Regions from separate parts of the Homo sapiens genome. Here region 1 is linked to region 2. Evidence: fine-mapped expression QTL. A gene starts in region 2. The other region holds a variant in brackets. All regions are shown on one strand. Distances are from middle to middle. Region 1 holds the start of PLEKHM2 (pleckstrin homology and RUN domain containing M2). Region 2 holds the start of SLC25A34 (solute carrier family 25 member 34).

Evidence for each region. PIP is the estimated chance that this variant, and not a neighbour inherited with it, causes the effect.
Region 1: its variant is fine-mapped to the expression of SLC25A34 in monocytes after LPS (Quach 2016, PIP 0.95).

The regions. Positions count from the first base shown.
Region 1 is chr1:15,676,861-15,685,177 of GRCh38, forward strand. It overlaps PLEKHM2 (pleckstrin homology and RUN domain containing M2), which reads left to right and starts at 7,460. Exons shown (of 20, transcript NM_015164.4): 1 at 7,460-7,758. The coding sequence starts at 7,699. RefSeq lists silencers at 1,774-2,321, 7,314-7,393, 7,484-7,563, 8,084-8,153 and an enhancer at 3,024-3,524. The variant G/A (reference allele first, on the strand shown) is at 4,036.
Region 2 is chr1:15,732,116-15,740,432 of GRCh38, forward strand. It overlaps SLC25A34 (solute carrier family 25 member 34), which reads left to right and starts at 4,143. Exons shown (of 5, transcript NM_207348.3): 1 at 4,143-4,748; 2 at 5,814-5,879; 3 at 5,978-6,130; 4 at 6,479-6,613; 5 at 7,109-8,317. The coding sequence starts at 4,371. The coding sequence ends at 7,291. PLEKHM2 (pleckstrin homology and RUN domain containing M2) reads left to right here. Exons shown (of 20, transcript NM_015164.4): 18 at 235-414; 19 at 497-613; 20 at 1,682-2,654. The coding sequence ends at 1,819. It overlaps SLC25A34-AS1 (SLC25A34 and TMEM82 antisense RNA 1), which reads right to left. Exons shown (of 2, transcript NR_149050.1): 2 at 7,936-8,107. RefSeq lists enhancers at 2,477-3,242, 3,243-4,009.

The DNA.
Region 1 (8,317 bases), 55 kb before region 2:
GGGATTGATGTCTGTCCTCAATACCATACCCTCAGTGTCTAGAATTGTGCCTAGTGCAGAGGAGCCACTTCACAGAGCAGGAGCACCGTTGTCTTGGACAAACACCACTTTACGTTCCAGCTCCCTTTCAAACCTCATGCGTCTTAAGGAAATCACTTCTCTTCTAATGACAAGCAGCCAGAAAGAGCAGACAGTAAGCACAGATAAGACAGCTCAGGCACAGAAGGAGGGAGAAAGTCTCGGGTAACCACCCAACTTCACACTCATACAATGAGCCCCAGTAAAACAGTGGGCCCTAATAAGCACATTCCTTTCCCTCTAGGTGCACTAAGATAAGGAAGCTAAAAGCAGACTCAGGGGGTGGGGGGATGCCTGCAGCTGCAGGAAGATGTATGGGAACAGACACACAACTCTCCCTCCCAGGTAAGCAAGACAAAGAGACACAGAAACATTCCGAGCCTGTGATAAGCTCTCCCACCCTGAACTCTTAAATACTCATAGTCTGTAAGAGAAAAGGCTCCTGACCTAAGTTGGCCAGAAGCCCCTCTCAGGTTTATACTCCAAAATAAGCCCATGTTTGACTGTTAAGCCACTTTTCATGTTTCTTTCTTCTTTCTTCAACTCTTACACCACTCAGATATGTTTTGAAAGAACAAATCCAGGAACACCATTTTGCTGCCTCAGTTTCCTGACTTCAAAGGCCCTGAGAGGCTGCCATAAGTGGGGTGACATAGCTAGTGGCAGAAGTGTGCCTGAAACCGAGACAGGTCAGTGAGGCCAGTTGAGAGATTCTAGCCCCAGTGACTGCTGATGCTGAGTTTAATGTAGATTTAAGGCAGATTACATTCAGGGGGGTTAGTATGCTTGCGGACTTCTATGTGAGGTAGGTTTTTTTGTTTTTTTTTTTTTTTTTTTAGACAGCATCTCACTCTATCACCCAGGTTGGAGTGCTGGAGTACAGTGGCACAATCATAGCTCACTGTAATCTTGAAACTCCTCGGCTCAAGCCACCCTCTCACAGCAGCCTCCTAAGTAGCTAGGGCTAGAGGTGCATACCGGCACACCCAGCTAATTTTTAAAAATTTCTTAGAGACAGGATCTTACTATGTTGCCCAGGGTGGACTTGAACTCCTGACCTCAAGCAATGTTCCTGCCTCAGCCTCCCAAAGTACTGGGATTATAAGTGTGAGCCACTGCACCTGGCCCCAGTGAAGTAGTACTTTTTATTATACCCACATATAAGACTAATTTGGGACATTGGCAAACAGTATCTCCCTGCTAATAGTTGTACAGACTTTGATCATAGTACCTCTAGTACCTCACCCATTATCTTCCTAGAATGGAAAGGCTCAAATCAGGTGTATTAGGCCATTCTTTCATTGCTATAAAGAAATACCTGAGACTGGGTAATTTATTTTTATTTTGTTGAGATGGAGTCTTGCTCTGTCACCCAGGCTGGAGTGCAGTGGTGTGATCTTGGCTCACTGAAACCTCCACCTCCTGGGTTCAAGCGAGTCTCCTGCCTCAGCCTCCCAAGTAGCTGGGACTACAGGCATGCACCACCACGCCTGTCTAATTTTTGTATTTTTAGTAGATACAGGGTTTTACCATGTTGGCCATGCTGGTCTCGAATGCCTGACCTCAAGTGATCCACCCGCCTTGGCCTCCCAAAGTGCTAGGATTACAGGTGTGAGCCACCGTGCTCAGTGAGACTGTGTAATTTATAATGAAAAGAGGTTTAATTGGCTCGTGATTCTGCAGGCTGCACAAGCATGGGCCAACATTGCTCAGCTTCTGGGGAGGCCTCAGGGAGCTTTTACTCATGGCAGAAGGTGAAGCAGGAGCAGGCTTATCACATGACAAAAGCAAGAGGAAGTGAGAGAGAGTGGTGGGGAGGTGCCACATACTTTTACATGACTACATCTTGCAAGAATTCACTCACTGTTTTGAGGACAGCACCAAGAGGATGGTGCTCAACCATTCATGAGAACTCCACCCCCATGATCCAGTCACCTCCCATCAGGCCCCACCTCCAACACTGAGGATTCCTTTTATTTATTTATTTATTTTCTTTTTTTTGAGACAGGTCTTGCTCTGCACCCAGGCTGGAATGCAGTGGCGCGATCTCAGCTCACTGCAACCTCCGCCTCCTGGGTTCAAGTGGTTCTCCTGCCTCAGCCTCCGGTGTAGCTGGGATTAAAGCACGTGCACCACACCTGGCTAATTTTTGTATTGTTAGTAAAGATGGGGTTTCACCATGTTGGCCAGGCTGGTCTCGAACTCCTGACCTCAAGTGATCTGCTTGCCTTGGCCTCCCAAAGTGCTGGGATTATAGGAATGAGCCACCGTGCCTGGCCTAAGGATTACATTTTGACATGAGATTTGAAACAAATATCCAAACTGTATCATCAGGTGTAAAGAGAAGCAACCTTACATCTGTCCTTAGTTCTCTCTTTTTTATTTTTTGTCACCCAGGCTGGGGTCTTGAACTCCTGACCTCAGGCAATCCACCCACCTCGGCATCCCAAAGTGCTGGGATTACAAGCGTGAGCCACTGCACCCAGTGTCTTTTGTCCTTTAACTTCCATGGCCAGCTAAAAACTTTATCTGCATTTTAATTAAGTTAAAAATTAATCAGAAAAAAGAAATTAATCAGAAAATTAATCAGAAAAAAAGAAACTGTAGCATAGCCCTTTCTATGCTACAGCTCAAGGCAGCTGTTCTAGGTTGATGGACAGCTCTCTTCCATGCAGTGATTCAGGGAACTAGGGTGTCTATATTTTATATGTCTGACATCCCCTTGGCTTCATTGCACTGGTAGAAGAAGAAACAGCATGGAAGAGGAAATTTGCATAGAATCCCAGCCTAGGAATGGATCACATTTCTCTGTTCATGTTCTATTTGAGAGGATTTGATCATATAGCTGTGCGTGTCACAAAGGAGGCTGGGAAATGTAGTGCAGCACTCTGCCTGGCTACAACCCTATTACTGTGTAAAGAGAGAGAAGATTTTGTTTTTTTGTTGTTTGGCTTTTGTTTTGAGACAGGGTCTTGCTCTGTTGCCTAGGTTGGAGTGCAGTGGTGCAAACATGGCTCACTGCAGCCTCAACCTCCCATGTAGCTGGGATCACAGGAACACATCACCATGCCTGGCTAATTTTTGGATTTTTTGTAGAGATGGGGGGTCTCACTTTGTTGCCCAGGCTGGTCTTGAACTCCTGGGCTCAAGTGATCGTCCCACCTTGGGCTCCCAAAGTGCTGGGATTACAGGCGTGAGCCATCACACGCAGCCAGAGAGAGCAGATTTGGGTGAATAGCTAGAGGCCCTCGGATGCGAACAGACCAGCATGCTTGAGAAACTAAGGTTGGTGGGGCTGGCACACACCAGCGGAGAGTTAGGAGATGAGTCAGGGAGGGAGGCTGGATCAGATCAGCCTTGGAAGCCAGAGAAAAGAGTATGGACTGTATTCTAAATGCTATGACAGTAGGCAGAGGCTGCAGTCAGCTGAGAACACGCCACTGCGCTCCAGCCTGGGTGACAGAGCGAGACTCTGTCTCAGAAAACAACAGGCTGGGCGCGGTGACTCACACCTGTAATCCCAGCACTTTAGGAGGCTGAGGCAGGTGGATCATGAGGTCAAGAGCTCGAGACCAGCCTGGCCAAGATGGTGAAACCCCAACTCTACTAAAAATACAAAAATTAGCCAGGTGCAGTGGCAGGAATCTGTAATCCCAGCTACTTGGGAAACTGAGGCAGGAGACTCACTTGAACCCGGGGGGGGCGGAGGTTGCAGTGAGCCAAGATGGAGCCACTGCACTCCAGCCTGGGCGACAGAGTAAAACTCCATCTCAAAAAACAACAACAACAAAAAATAAGAATAGAATCATTTTTCCTGGGTCACTGATTTGGAAATTAAGGCAAAGTGACTTGCCTGAGGCCCTAGCATGAGTCAGTTGAGGCTTTTAATTCTTGTTGCCTTTTGACTCAGAGTCCCATGCACTTCTCATGAGATCAGAAAAGTCTTGTGCAATAAAT[G/A]AATGAGCTTCAATTTCCAGCTTAAGTGACTCCCAATAACAAATAAGTATCTTGTGTTTTTCAGAGTCACCCTTTTTTTTTTGGTTTGCTTTTTGGGGTTTTTTAAGAGGTGAAGTCTTGCTCTGTCACCCAGGCTGGAGTGCAGCCACATGAGCTCAAGAGATCCTCCCTCTTCAGCCTCCAAAGCAGCTGAGGCTATAGACATGCACCACCATGCCCGGCTCGCCCTGTGTTTGACACGCAGAACGGATTCCATATTTGAACTCTGGACAAGGAGCAATTAGCTGCACATCAATGCACATTTGGCCTCTCCCTCTTTCCTGCAAGAAGTGTTGTTAGATAACAATGTCTGTTGTACCAGCTCACATACCTATGCAAACCTTAGGAATTTGGTAGACAGTGAGACCTTACATTCCTCTGAATGTTGTAAAATGCTGAATGTGACCATCTCCCAATACATGCAGATAAAAACAATATGGCAGAAATGCCACCACCTTCTTATGTCACAGACCAAGTGGACGCCCCAGGCATACAGCCAAGGAATAAAAATACCCACTGAGTGTACCATGTGCCCAAGCCATGATCAGCCATTCCTAGGGAGGAGGTGCCCAGCAGAACGCAGTGCTCAGCAGAAGATGGCCTGCTATTCAACAGCAGAGAAGAATCCCAAAGCTTGTTGGGTCAGTTTTGGGGGACTGCATTTTCATGAACCAGAGCTGCATCCAGCAGGTTGGGGCCTGTATGCACCCTAGCCAGGATGGAGTGGGAAGGAAGTGCGCAATTCTGACTCCACAAACACCTTTGGTAAGTAGGAGGCTATTTCTACTCATAGATACCTGGCTATTTATTTCCTCATTCAAAGTAATGTGTCCTCTGTCCTCAACCTTTTCTCTACCTATCCAGTGACTGGAGTCTCAACCCTCATCTGTTCTTATTCTGCTCTCTGAATATGAGAGGTAGATAACAACTCCAAAGAGGCTGTTATCTCTTGCTTTCCTGAACTCAGTACAAATAAGAAAACGCCCTGGGCTGGACATGATGGCTCATGCCCGTAATCCCAGCCCTTTGGGAGGCTGAGGTAAGAGGATGGCCTGAGCTCAGGAGTTCAAGACCAGCCTGGGTAACAGAGCGAGGCCCTGTCTCTACAAAAAATAAAATTCGCTGGGCGTATTTTATTCTGTACTCTCAGCTACTGGGGAGGCTGACGTGGGAGGATCCCCCAGGGAGTTCAAGCTACAGTGAGCTATGATCACACCCACCACTGCACTCCAGCCTGGGTGACAGAGTGAGACCCTGTCTTTAAAAAATAATTTAAGGCCAAGGCGGGCAGATCACCTGAGGTCAGGAGTTCAAGACCAGCCTGGCCAACATGGCGAAACCCCGTCTCTACTAAAAATACAAAAAAATTAGCTGGGCGTGGTGGCAGGCGCCCGTAATCCCAGCTACTGGGGAGGCTGAGACAGGAGAATCACTTGAACCTGGGAGGAGGAAGTTGCAGTGAGCTGAAATTGTGCCACCGCACTCCGGCCTGGGTGACAGAGCGAGACTCCGCCTCAAAAAAAAAAAAAAAAATTAGCTGGGCATGGTGTCACATGCACTTGTAGTCCCAGCTACTCGGGAGGCTGAGGCAGGAGAATCGCTTAAAGCTGGGAAGCGGAAGTTGCAGTGAGCAGAGATCGCACCACCGCATTCCAGCCTGGGGAACAGAGCAAGGCTCTGTCTCAAAAACAAACAAAACAAAACAAAACAAAAAAAACAAAAAACAAAGTACCACTATTTTGGGTCTCTCCTTGGGAAACTAAGGGGCTGGGGAGCGACCTTTGGAGGCTTGTGGGGTCCCTCTGAGATAAGCAATGAATCAGTATTTCAGATGCTAAGGGGACTTCAGGGATGGGGTGGCCTGAGCAGAGAAGAGGGAAGACCAGGGAACCAGAGTTGAGAACTGGGGTGTCTGAGAATAAAAAGGAGGGACTAATCTATGTGTCAGGATATATTTATTTGGGAACTTAAGGAGGGAAGAGAGCCAGGTAGGAGACTGACACCTCTAAGTGCAGGGGCTTTATGAGATGGTGGATTTGAGGAGGGTGTGTGGGAAGAGAGTTGTTACGGTGGGTTTCAGGGGCTGAGGGAGTTGAGGCCCTTGGGATACGTGGGGCTGAAGAAGAGGGATAAGGATAAGGAGTGGGAATGGGGCATTGGGGCTGAAGGTGAGGAGGGTGTGTTTTGGGGGTGGGGAGGAACACCAGGGACCTCAAATGTAGGACTGGGCCTTGAGGGTGAGGCACTGAGGAGGGGAGGCTGTGGAGGGCCAGGGGGCCCAGGGAGGGTCTAGGGCTGGGGACTGGAGTCTAGGCTGACCCGGTGGGGGTGCTGGGTCCTCCAGGCTGCGAAAGCCAGGGGGCCTGGGTCTGCACATTGAGGGGGTGGCTGGGCTAAGGAAGGGGAGGAAGATAAGTGGGGCTTGCAGGCTAAGAGGGTCTTGGGGTCCCTGGCCAGAGTTAGTGGGGTGCACTGGGGTCTCCAAGGAGGGGTCTGTGGACTAAAGAGGGCCGGCGGGAGGGGGCCCAGGGTCTGTGGGTGTCTCGAGTCTCTGAGGAGGGCCGGGGTCTCAGGGTCTGTGGGGGTCTCTGGCCTGTGGGGTCGGAGTCTCCAGAGTCCTTGGGGCCTGTGGGAGTCTCTGGGGTTTTGTGGGGGGATCCTGTGGGCTGAGGAGGGCTGTGGGGAGGGTCTCAGGGTCTCTGGGGAGGGCCAGTGCCTCGGGGTCTTTGGGGGTCTCTGAGGAGGGCTGGGGGCCCAGGGTCTGTGGGGGTCCCCAGCAGGTGGGGTTGGGGTCTCCGGAGTCCCTGGAGTCTGAGGGTGTCTCTGAGGTCCCAGGGGGGAGTCTATGGCCTGAGGGCTGAGGGGGAGGGTCTCCAGGGTCTCTGAGGAGGGCCGGTGTCCCGGGCAGGCGGGGTCGGGGTCTCCGGAGTTCCTGGGGTCTGAGGGTGTCTCTGGGGTCCCTGAGGGAATCTGTGGGCTGACGAGGCCTGGGGGAGGGTCTCCGAGGAGGGCCGGGGTCCCAGGGTCTGTGGGGGTCTCTGGCAGGCGGGGTCGGGGTGTCCGGAGTCCCTGGGGTCTGAGGGTGTCTCTGGGGTCCCTGAAGGAATCTGTGGGCTGAGGAGGGCTTGGGGAGGGTCTCTGAGGAGCCCCGAGGTCCCCGGCAGGCGGGGTCGAGGTCTCTGGCGTCCCTGGGGTCTGAGGGTGTCTCTGGGGTGCCGGGGAGAGTCTGTGACTTGAGGAGGGCTGGGGGCGGGTCTCGGGGTCTCTGGGGAGGGCCGCGGCCAAGGGTCTGTGCGGGTCTCCGGGTCCCCGGAGTCCCCAGGCGCAGGCGGGCCCTGGCGCCGCCCCGCCTGACATCAGTTCCTGCCGCCGCCGCCGCCGCGGCGCACAGCCCGCGGCCTCCTTCCCCGCCGGCCGCGCTCCGGAGCCTCCGGGCCGCGGTGGAGCGAGGGCCCAGGCGAGGCGAGGGCCGGGCGGCGGGCGCCGGGCCCCGCGGCCGGCACGACGGAGCCCCCGTACGGCCGGCGGCAGCGGTTGGCGGCGGCCCCCGGCCCCCGGCGCGGGAAGCGGCGGCGGGGCGGCGGCGGCGGTGGCGGTGGCGGTGGCGGCGACGGTGGCAGCGCCATGGAGCCGGGGGAGGTGAAGGACCGGATCCTGGAGAACATCTCGCTGTCGGTGAAGAAGGTGAGCGCGGCCTCCCTCCCGGCCGGGGCCCCTTCCTCGCCGCGCCCCCCACGCCCTCCGGCGGCGCTCTCCCGGGCCGGGGCCCCCCGCCCTTCCCCTCCGCGACCCGGGGGGCGACGAGCGGCCGGGAGCCCCGGGCCGGTAGAGGGGAAGCGGCGCCGCTCACGTGAGCGCCGCGGCCTCGGAGCTATTTTTAAAGAACAAAGTTGAGGTCAGCATCCTCGGAGCTTCCCCAAACCTGGCCCGGGGCCCTGCCCTCCCGGAGAGGGGTCAGCGACCCTCCGGTCCCCCACTGGGGCAGCGGCGCCCCCGGGAGCTCCTGAAGGAACCCCATGCAGCCTCCTGTGGAATCCGCTGCATCCCCGGGTCCCCCCGCCAGGCTGGCGTCGCCCAGGGTCTGGCAGTCAGGGTGGAGGCCAGTGATAAGCAACTTCACTTTCCCATGGCCTGGGTCCCGGCGACATTGCCTCTGCTCCTGGGAAGTCCCCTGAATAATCTTGCTCAAGGATGGTAGCTTTGAAGAGGTTCACTAGGGGCTTTGATTATAAGAACCTGAAGT
Region 2 (8,317 bases):
CCTAAACCCATAGTCACAGAGCAACCTGAGGGCCAAGACGGACCTCCAGGGGGCAGCCCAGGAATGGACCCTGGAGCTCAGAGGCATCACCCCCATCCCCGCCTCTGCTCCCGATCCCTGGAGGGAGATCCCTGGAGGGAGAGCAGAAGGGCTGGCTGGTCCCCTGGAGTGTGGACTTCTGGTGCAGACCAGCCCTGGAGGCCCCAGCCTGCCTCTCCCCTGCCCCGCTGCCAGGTCATCCCCCAGGGCGTAGCTCCCAGCCCCTGCATACCCTGCTGCCTGGTCCTCACGGATGACCGCCTCTTTACGTGCCATGAGGATTGCCAGACCAGCTTCTTCCGCTCTTTGGGCACAGCCAAGCTGGGCGACATCAGCGCCGTCTCCACCGAGCCGGGCAAGGAGTACTGCGTCTTGGTGAGCTTTGAGTGGGGGCGGGGCTGCAAGGCCTGCAGAAGGAAAGCTCTGGCTGCTCACCCGGGGGCCTGGCTCTCCCTAGGAGTTCTCCCAGGACAGCCAGCAGCTCCTCCCGCCCTGGGTCATCTACCTGAGCTGCACTTCTGAACTGGACCGATTGCTGTCTGCACTGAACTCTGGGTGGAAAACCATCTATCAGGTACCCAGCTGCCCAGGAAACCCATTAGCCAGGGACCCTGTGGAGTGGGAGCCACTCCCCGGGGAGAGGAACCCCTGCTGCTCCCAGGACTTGGCCCTGCCTCCAGGGTCCTGGGCACAGCCATGTACCAGGGCGCTCCTGCCTCAGCCCCGGGGGTGAGTGCCTGCTGCTCTTAAAACAAACCCAGAAGAGTCCTCACTGTCCTTGCCGTCTCTTGCTGCGCACAAGCCTGCCAGGCTGGGAGCCCGAGGCCCTCAAGCCACTCAGCATTGCTGCCTCAAGGGCCTGGGAGGGAAGGGGTGGGCCCTGGGAGGTGGGTGTGGGACTCCAGCCCCGGTGGTTCTGCCTCTGGTTTGGACTGGGCCTTGGGTGATTGAGGGTGGCCTGGCAGGAGAGAGCTGTCTGGGGGCAGAGGCCAAGGTGGGCATGTTGGTGCCAGCCCCAGACTGAGCAGACACACCTGACAGGCACAAAAACTTAGAATCAAAAGGACAAAACCCTGACTCCCAGTGAGTCTGAGGCCAAAGCTGAAAACAGAACCCAAGAAGCTTAATTCCTGACCTCAGTTCCAATCAAACAGCACGAATTGTGGTGGACCTCCAGCTGTGCTCAGATGGGGGGACACAATATTGGCAGTACCCTCTTCCTTGCCCTCCAGGCTGAGTGCCAGTGTGGGAGCGTGCTCATGAGAGCCCTGCACAAGCGGGTTTTGAGCACATGCTACGCTCTAGCCCCGTGGAAGCCTGGACTAGTTAGAGGCAGAGAACAGCTCAGGACAGACACCTCCCTGCAGAGCCAAACAGAGTGCAGCGCCTGCCTCGCTGGGCCATCCTGAGAGCTGGGGCCTTCCCAGGAAAGAGGGAGCTCGGGGGGCACCACCCCATCCTCAGCTCAAGCCCCTGGAAGAGCGGGAGAAACTAGCAGCGTGGAAGATGTTCCCAGGGAGAGATGGGGAGGGCCTGACAGGGGCTCCGTGGCCAAGGCAGAGGCAGGCCTGGTGCCCACAAGCCCTGAAGACTCCTGTGGCCCTCAGTGGCCCTCATCTGTTCTCTGCACGCCCCAACACAGGTGGACCTCCCCCACACGGCGATCCAGGAAGCCTCCAACAAGAAGAAATTCGAGGATGCCTTGAGCCTCATCCACAGCGCCTGGCAGCGGAGCGACAGTCTCTGCCGCGGCCGAGCCTCCCGAGACCCCTGGTGCTGAGGCAGAGCTGGTTGGCGTCCCTGGTGGGCAGGAAAGGAAGGCACGCCAGCCGGCAGGCACACTGTCACGGCTGTTGTCATGCTGTCGGGAGCCTACAGTCCACCCCTGCCCTGGGCGGCAGAACCACCGAGTGTGGCTTAAGACAGGGTCCCTCCACTCCAGGGATCCAGATCAGGTGCCCGGCACCCCTGGGCATCCTGCCCGACAGGTAGCGAATGGAGGTCGCTGGGGGCAGAGGGTCCGAGCCCTGTGGGCTCTGCGGATGCACGCCCTCCTCCCGGGCCTCCGCCTCAGTCTGCAGAATTTCTGCCGAGTGGCACCGAGAACACCATCCATCTAAGGACGAACAAAAGAACCAGGAGGGCGGGACCCCCCTCTTCCTCTCCTGGGTTGGGGGCTGGGGCCCTGAGTGCCCAGCCATCCTTGTTCGTGTTTGAACACTCTCCTGGCCACGTGGGGAAGCGGGAACACGGGGTGTCTGCGCATGTTTCCTCCTCCTAGCTCCATCACTGCGCACACAGCTGCCTGCCTCGCCAGATGCAGGGGGGCGGGCAGCCCTCCCTGGCTGCCAGGAGGCTCTGCATGCCCACAGTCCTGCCCTGCCTGTCCCCTCAACCCGGCAGTGCCTGTAGCACCGAGGAGCAAAGGGGGTGGATGGGGGGCTTGGAGAAGGGCGGAGCCCACCAGCCTGGCATCCATGTTGACATCTTCTGACTGTCCCCTGCTTGGCTGGAGCCAGGCCCTTCCCTAGAGTTTCGTCAAGAGCCTCCTGGGGAAGGGGTCAGGTGGTTTGGGTTTTGTTTTTTAAAATAAAATAGACATGTTATATTGCCAAGGCTTGTCACTGGCCCTTTTTGAGCAGGGTAGGGGAAGGGAGCTCTCCAAATCCCTTGGGCCCTTTTCTGCAAACCTTCCTCCATCATCTGCCCTGTGCCTGACACAAGGGACACACGGGACATGCAGAACCAGATCAGCCACCGCTGCCGGGCGGACTCACCGTCTGCAGACCCTCAGGCCCTGGGAGTTTCTCGGCCCGACCTTTGCCCTCCGTCCTGTTCCTGTTTGCTGCAGCAGCCAGGGGAGGAGCAGCCACCAGCTCAAGCCCCAGGGCACGTCTGCACCGCCGCCCACCATCTGCAGCCCACCCCGGGGCAGGACGCTCCTGCCTCCACAGCCCCGGGGGTGAGTGCCCAAACCCAGGAGAATCCAAGCTGTCCTCGCTGCCTCTTGCTGCGCCGTCCCCTCCAGGGCTGGCCAGAGGGTGACAACCCTGCCAGGCCGGGAGCCTGAGGCCCTCAAGCCACTCAGCATTGCTGCCTCAAGGGCCTGGGAGGGAAGGGGTGGGCCCTGGGAGGTGGGTGTGGGACTCCAACTTGGGTGGTTCTGCCTCTAGTTTGGACTGGGCCTTGGGTGACTGAGGGTGGCCTGGCAGGAGAGAGCTGTCTGGGGGCAGAGGCCAAGGTGGGCATGTTGGTACCGGCCCCAGCCTGAGCAGACACACCTGACAGCTGGCCCAGGTGGCGTTCTCTTCTCAGCGGGCACAAAGGGCATCCCAGGGCAGGCCTGGCAGCAAGTCCTTACCAGCCAAGGTCACTCCTCAAGTCCTACTCACCCAGGTGCCCTGAAGTCCTGGGAGCAGCGAGGGGGGCATAGGAGCCAGAGGCAGTGGGGGTGGGGGCGAGCAGGCGATGCGGGTGCCTTTATCGGGTGCAGCACTGACCTAGGCACACTCTTCTCATCGCCAGTCCTCCACAGAACCTTCTGGAGTGGATGTCAGTATCTCCATTTTACAAATGAGAGAAACTGAAGCTCTGAGAGGAAGTGACTTGCCCAGGGGTCACACATGAGAGCCACACCTGGGATTCCAATCAGCTCCCCAGGGCTCCAGAGCCCTTCTCTACTTCTGACCCTGCTGAGCATGGGCCTATAGACGGTGGGAGCCAGACTGAAGACTTGAGTCCTGGAAAGGGGAAGTCAGTCACCAGGGGCATATCAGGGGCAGGGTGGGGCAGGGGCGGAGTTGGCCGTGTACCCCATGCCAGGGACCTCCCAGTCACTTGCCCCCTGCCTAGGGCTCTGCCAAAGCTGGACAGGCTAAGCCAGAGGCAAGGCAGGGGTGCCAGCCCTTTGCCCAGGGCCAGAGGGAGGCCAGGAGGAGGTGCCTGGGCTGGTTGGCACCTTCTCCCTATCCACGCTCTCCCTCCAGTCCCAAGTGACCTTTCCCCCAGATCCCAGGGTCCAGGCCCGCCCTCGGCTGGCAGGTGTGGGCACAGAGGCAGCTGGGATTGGTCGCAGCTGGCGGAGGCGCGTCCCAGGCTCCGGCAGACCGCTGGAACAGCTGAGCAGAGCAGGTGGACTGCTGAGATAGACCAGGGACACCAGGCAGCCACAGGCCTGTCAGACCAGGACCCTTACCCTCTAGACATGGCCTCGGTCCCCTGCAAACCCCAGCCCCGTAGCCCTGCGAGGTTACAGACAGCCTAAACGCCACCACCACAGGGCCTGTGCCGTGCCCCTGACCCGGGCACAGAAGGCCACTGGCCCGGAGGCCATGGAGACGGTGCCCCCAGCAGTGGACCTGGTGCTGGGTGCTTCTGCCTGCTGCCTGGCCTGTGTCTTCACCAACCCCCTGGAGGTGGTGAAGACGCGGCTGCAGCTGCAGGGGGAGCTGCAGGCCCGGGGCACCTACCCACGGCCCTACCATGGCTTCATAGCCTCTGTCGCTGCTGTGGCCCGAGCAGACGGGCTGTGGGGCCTGCAGAAGGGGCTGGCTGCCGGCCTTCTGTACCAAGGCCTCATGAATGGCGTTCGTTTCTACTGCTACAGCCTGGCGTGCCAGGCTGGCCTCACGCAGCAACCAGGTGGCACCGTGGTTGCGGGAGCCGTGGCGGGGGCACTGGGAGCCTTCGTGGGGAGCCCTGCTTACCTGGTGAGTGGCTTGTCTCCATCGTCCACCCTCCACCATCCCATGACCCAGCTCCCACAGGGGCCCTGCAGCCTCCAAAGGCAGGGCTCAGTGGACCTGGGTGGGGTGGGGCAGCCGGGGTGGGGCTGCTCCCTGGAACATCCTAGCCCAAGCCTGGAATCTGCCCCTTGGCCCAGGGCCTTGCTCTGATCCATGCTCCCCTGCGGTCCCTGCCCCACTGGTCCTGAGCCAGGGGAGGGGGCAGAGGGTGTCAGATGTGCTGGCTCAAATCCTGGCTTGGTTACTTCTCTTCCCGCATGGCCTCATGTACGATAAGAATAAAAGCTACCCTTGAGGGCCTCCGCCTCGTGTGCACTCTGCAGGGGGGCCTCAGGGCCACCCAAAACAAATAAAAAATTAAAAAATGTTTTGAAGAAAGCTACCCTTGGCTGGGTGCAGTGGCTCACGCCTGTAATCCCAGCACTTTGGGAGGCCGAGGCGGGCAGATCACCTGAGGTCAGGAGTTTGAGACCAGCATGGTCAACATGGTGAAACCCTGTCTCTGCTAAAAAGTACAAAAATTAGCTGGGCGTGGTGATGCATGCCTGTAATCCCAGCTACCGGGGAGGCTGAGGCAGGAGAATCACTTGAGCCCAGTTGGCAGAGCTTGCAGTGAGCCAAGATCATGGCACTGTACTTCAGCCTGGGCAACACAGCAAGACTCTGCCTCAAAAAAAAAAAAAGGAAAGAAAGAAAAAAAAAGCTCCCCTTGAGCAAAGGCTCGCCTTGCCCTTGGCTGGTGCTGGAGGATCATTGTCTCACTTAATCCTCAGAACAGCTTTCCAACCGTGACAGAATTGAGGCCCAGAAAAGGTTAAGTAACTTGCTCCAAGTCACACTGAGACGCAAAACCCAGGCCAACCCCAGAGCTGCACCTCAACCCTATTTCACTTGACCCCTAAGCTTCAGGCTCGGGACCATGGAGCTGTGAGTTTCAGGGGCACGGGGGCAGGGCGCCCTCAACACACACAGCTCACCCTGGCTCTCCCAGGCTCCATCCCCACACCCGTGTCCTCTCTGCTCCCATAGATCAAAACGCAGCTGCAAGCTCAGACAGTGGCCGCAGTGGCCGTGGGACACCAGCACAATCACCAGGTGAGGCCTGCCACTCTCAGAGCTCCCTGGGGGCATGGATTGGGCATGCTCCCAGCCTAGGCAGGGGTGGCCAGTGACCCCGTGCCCTCTCCCCACAGACTGTCCTGGGTGCCTTGGAGACCATCTGGCGGCAGCAAGGGCTCTTGGGGCTGTGGCAGGGCGTTGGTGGGGCTGTGCCCCGAGTCATGGTGGGCTCAGCTGCCCAGCTGGCCACCTTCGCCTCTGCCAAGGCCTGGGTACAGAAGCAACAGGTGAGGAGCTGGGGACACCTGTGCCTATCCACAGAGACACACCGGACTGAGGGGGGCCACCTGCCTCCTTCCACACGGGGAAGACCAGGGGGTGGCAACAGATGGGGCCCTGCCTCTGCCCTCAGAGTCGTGACTCCGGCCCTTGGTACCAGCAGGAGTGTGGGGTCAGCAGTGAACCCCAAAGCTGAGAAGGAGCTCAGGGTGGCAGGGCTGGGGGATGGCTGGAGGGGCCTCATCTGCTCCCCTTTCTGTAGCCCTTTTAGCCCCTGTGTGGTAGGAGGCCGGGAGGGCACGACGTGGGTGGGTAGAGAGCTGTTGCAGGGATCAGCACCTGTGCCATCCCCACAGTGGCTCCCTGAGGACAGCTGGCTGGTGGCCCTGGCTGGGGGCATGATCAGCAGCATAGCCGTGGTTGTCGTCATGACTCCCTTCGATGTGGTCAGCACGCGGCTATACAATCAGCCGGTGGACACAGCTGGCAGGGTGAGCAGGGGCGGGTCTAGGGGAGACCGTGGGGAGCTGGGAGCACCCCCCCAACACACACACACACACACACACTCTCACACACTCACACTCACACATGCACAGCCAGAGACACGCAGACACAGGCCAGGTATGCAAACACATTAACTGGGCTTGTTTGCTGAGCCCCCGGGTCCCAGGCACAGGCTAAGCACTTTCACATCTGGATTTTATTCCATCCTTATAATCACATTCATCTTCCTGATGAGGAAGCTGAGGCTCAGACAGATCAACTGACTTGCATGAGTTCCCCCAGCTGGTAAGGGGAGGAGCCAGAACTGGAATTCAGGCCTGACCCCACAGCCTTCCCATGGCGCCGCAGCCTCACAGGTGTGTCCAATACAAAGGTGCTGTCCATAGGGTGTGTGGGGGTGAAATTGACCCGTGTGCCAAGATGTGGTGCCAGCCAGGGCCTCAAGGCCCCTGTAGTAACACTCACCCCATGTCTTTCCCCAGGGCCAGCTCTATGGGGGCCTCACCGACTGCATGGTGAAGATCTGGCGGCAGGAGGGCCCCCTGGCACTCTACAAGGGCCTGGGCCCCGCCTACCTGCGCCTGGGCCCCCACACCATCCTCAGCATGCTCTTCTGGGACGAGCTTCGGAAACTGGCTGGGCGGGCCCAGCACAAGGGCACCTAGACGACGGCCCTCACCCCCACGTCCTGACACGGCCGGCACTTGGCCGGAAGTGAGAGCCTGCTCCAGGACAACTGGCTGTCCCGGGGCGGGCCATGGGCCCAGGCCCTGCCAGAGGTCCCGGGAGAGTGTGGACAGCTCTGGTCCATCCAGCCCCTTGGCCCACCCAGGTCCAGAGCATCCACTTCAAGTTACCACCCATTCTGTCTTCCAGACAGTTCTCTTCCTTCTCTGTACTGCGTACTGGGTCACCACATCCCAGAGCCTTGCTCAGTTATAGCAACTGCTGCGGGCGTGCACATGGCATAGGCCCAGTAACTTACATACATCGGCTCACTTAGGCCTCAGACAGCAGCACGAGGCAGGCACTTTTACTTCTTTTACCATTAGAAAGCCAAGGCCTAGAGTGGTGGGCTTTGACCACAGCCACACAATTTTGAAGTGGCAGAGCCAGGACTGGAGCTTAGCCCTGCTCACCCTAGACCTATGCGCTTGACAAGTGCGTGACTGTGACAGGCCCATGGGCCCGGACTGCCCATAGGGGTCACTGTACCATGGCAAAGGCTGAGGTGCACCAGGAGGCTGTGGCGTCGTCACCTGCCTTATTTGCTGGAGAAGCTGTAGCAAAGAACCACAGACTGGGCGACTTAGACAATAGAAATGTATTTTCTCACAGTTCTGGAGGCTGGATGCTGGAGACCAAGGTGTCAGTGGGCTGGTTTCTTCTGAGGCCTCTGTCCATGGCTTGCAGATGCTGCTTTCTCTCTGTGTCTGCACATGGTGGTCCCTCGATGTGCGTCTGGGTCCTGATCTCCTCCTCTTATAAGGACACAAATCATGTTGGCTTAGGGCCCACCCTCATGACCCCACTTTAATTTTTTTTTTTTTTTTTGAGATGAAGTCTCACTCTGCCACCCAAGCTGGAGTGCAGTGGCACGATCTCGGTTCACTGCAACCTTGGCCTCCTAGGTTCAAGCAATTCTCCTGCCCCAGCCTCCTGAGTAGCTGGGATTACAGGTGTGTGCCACC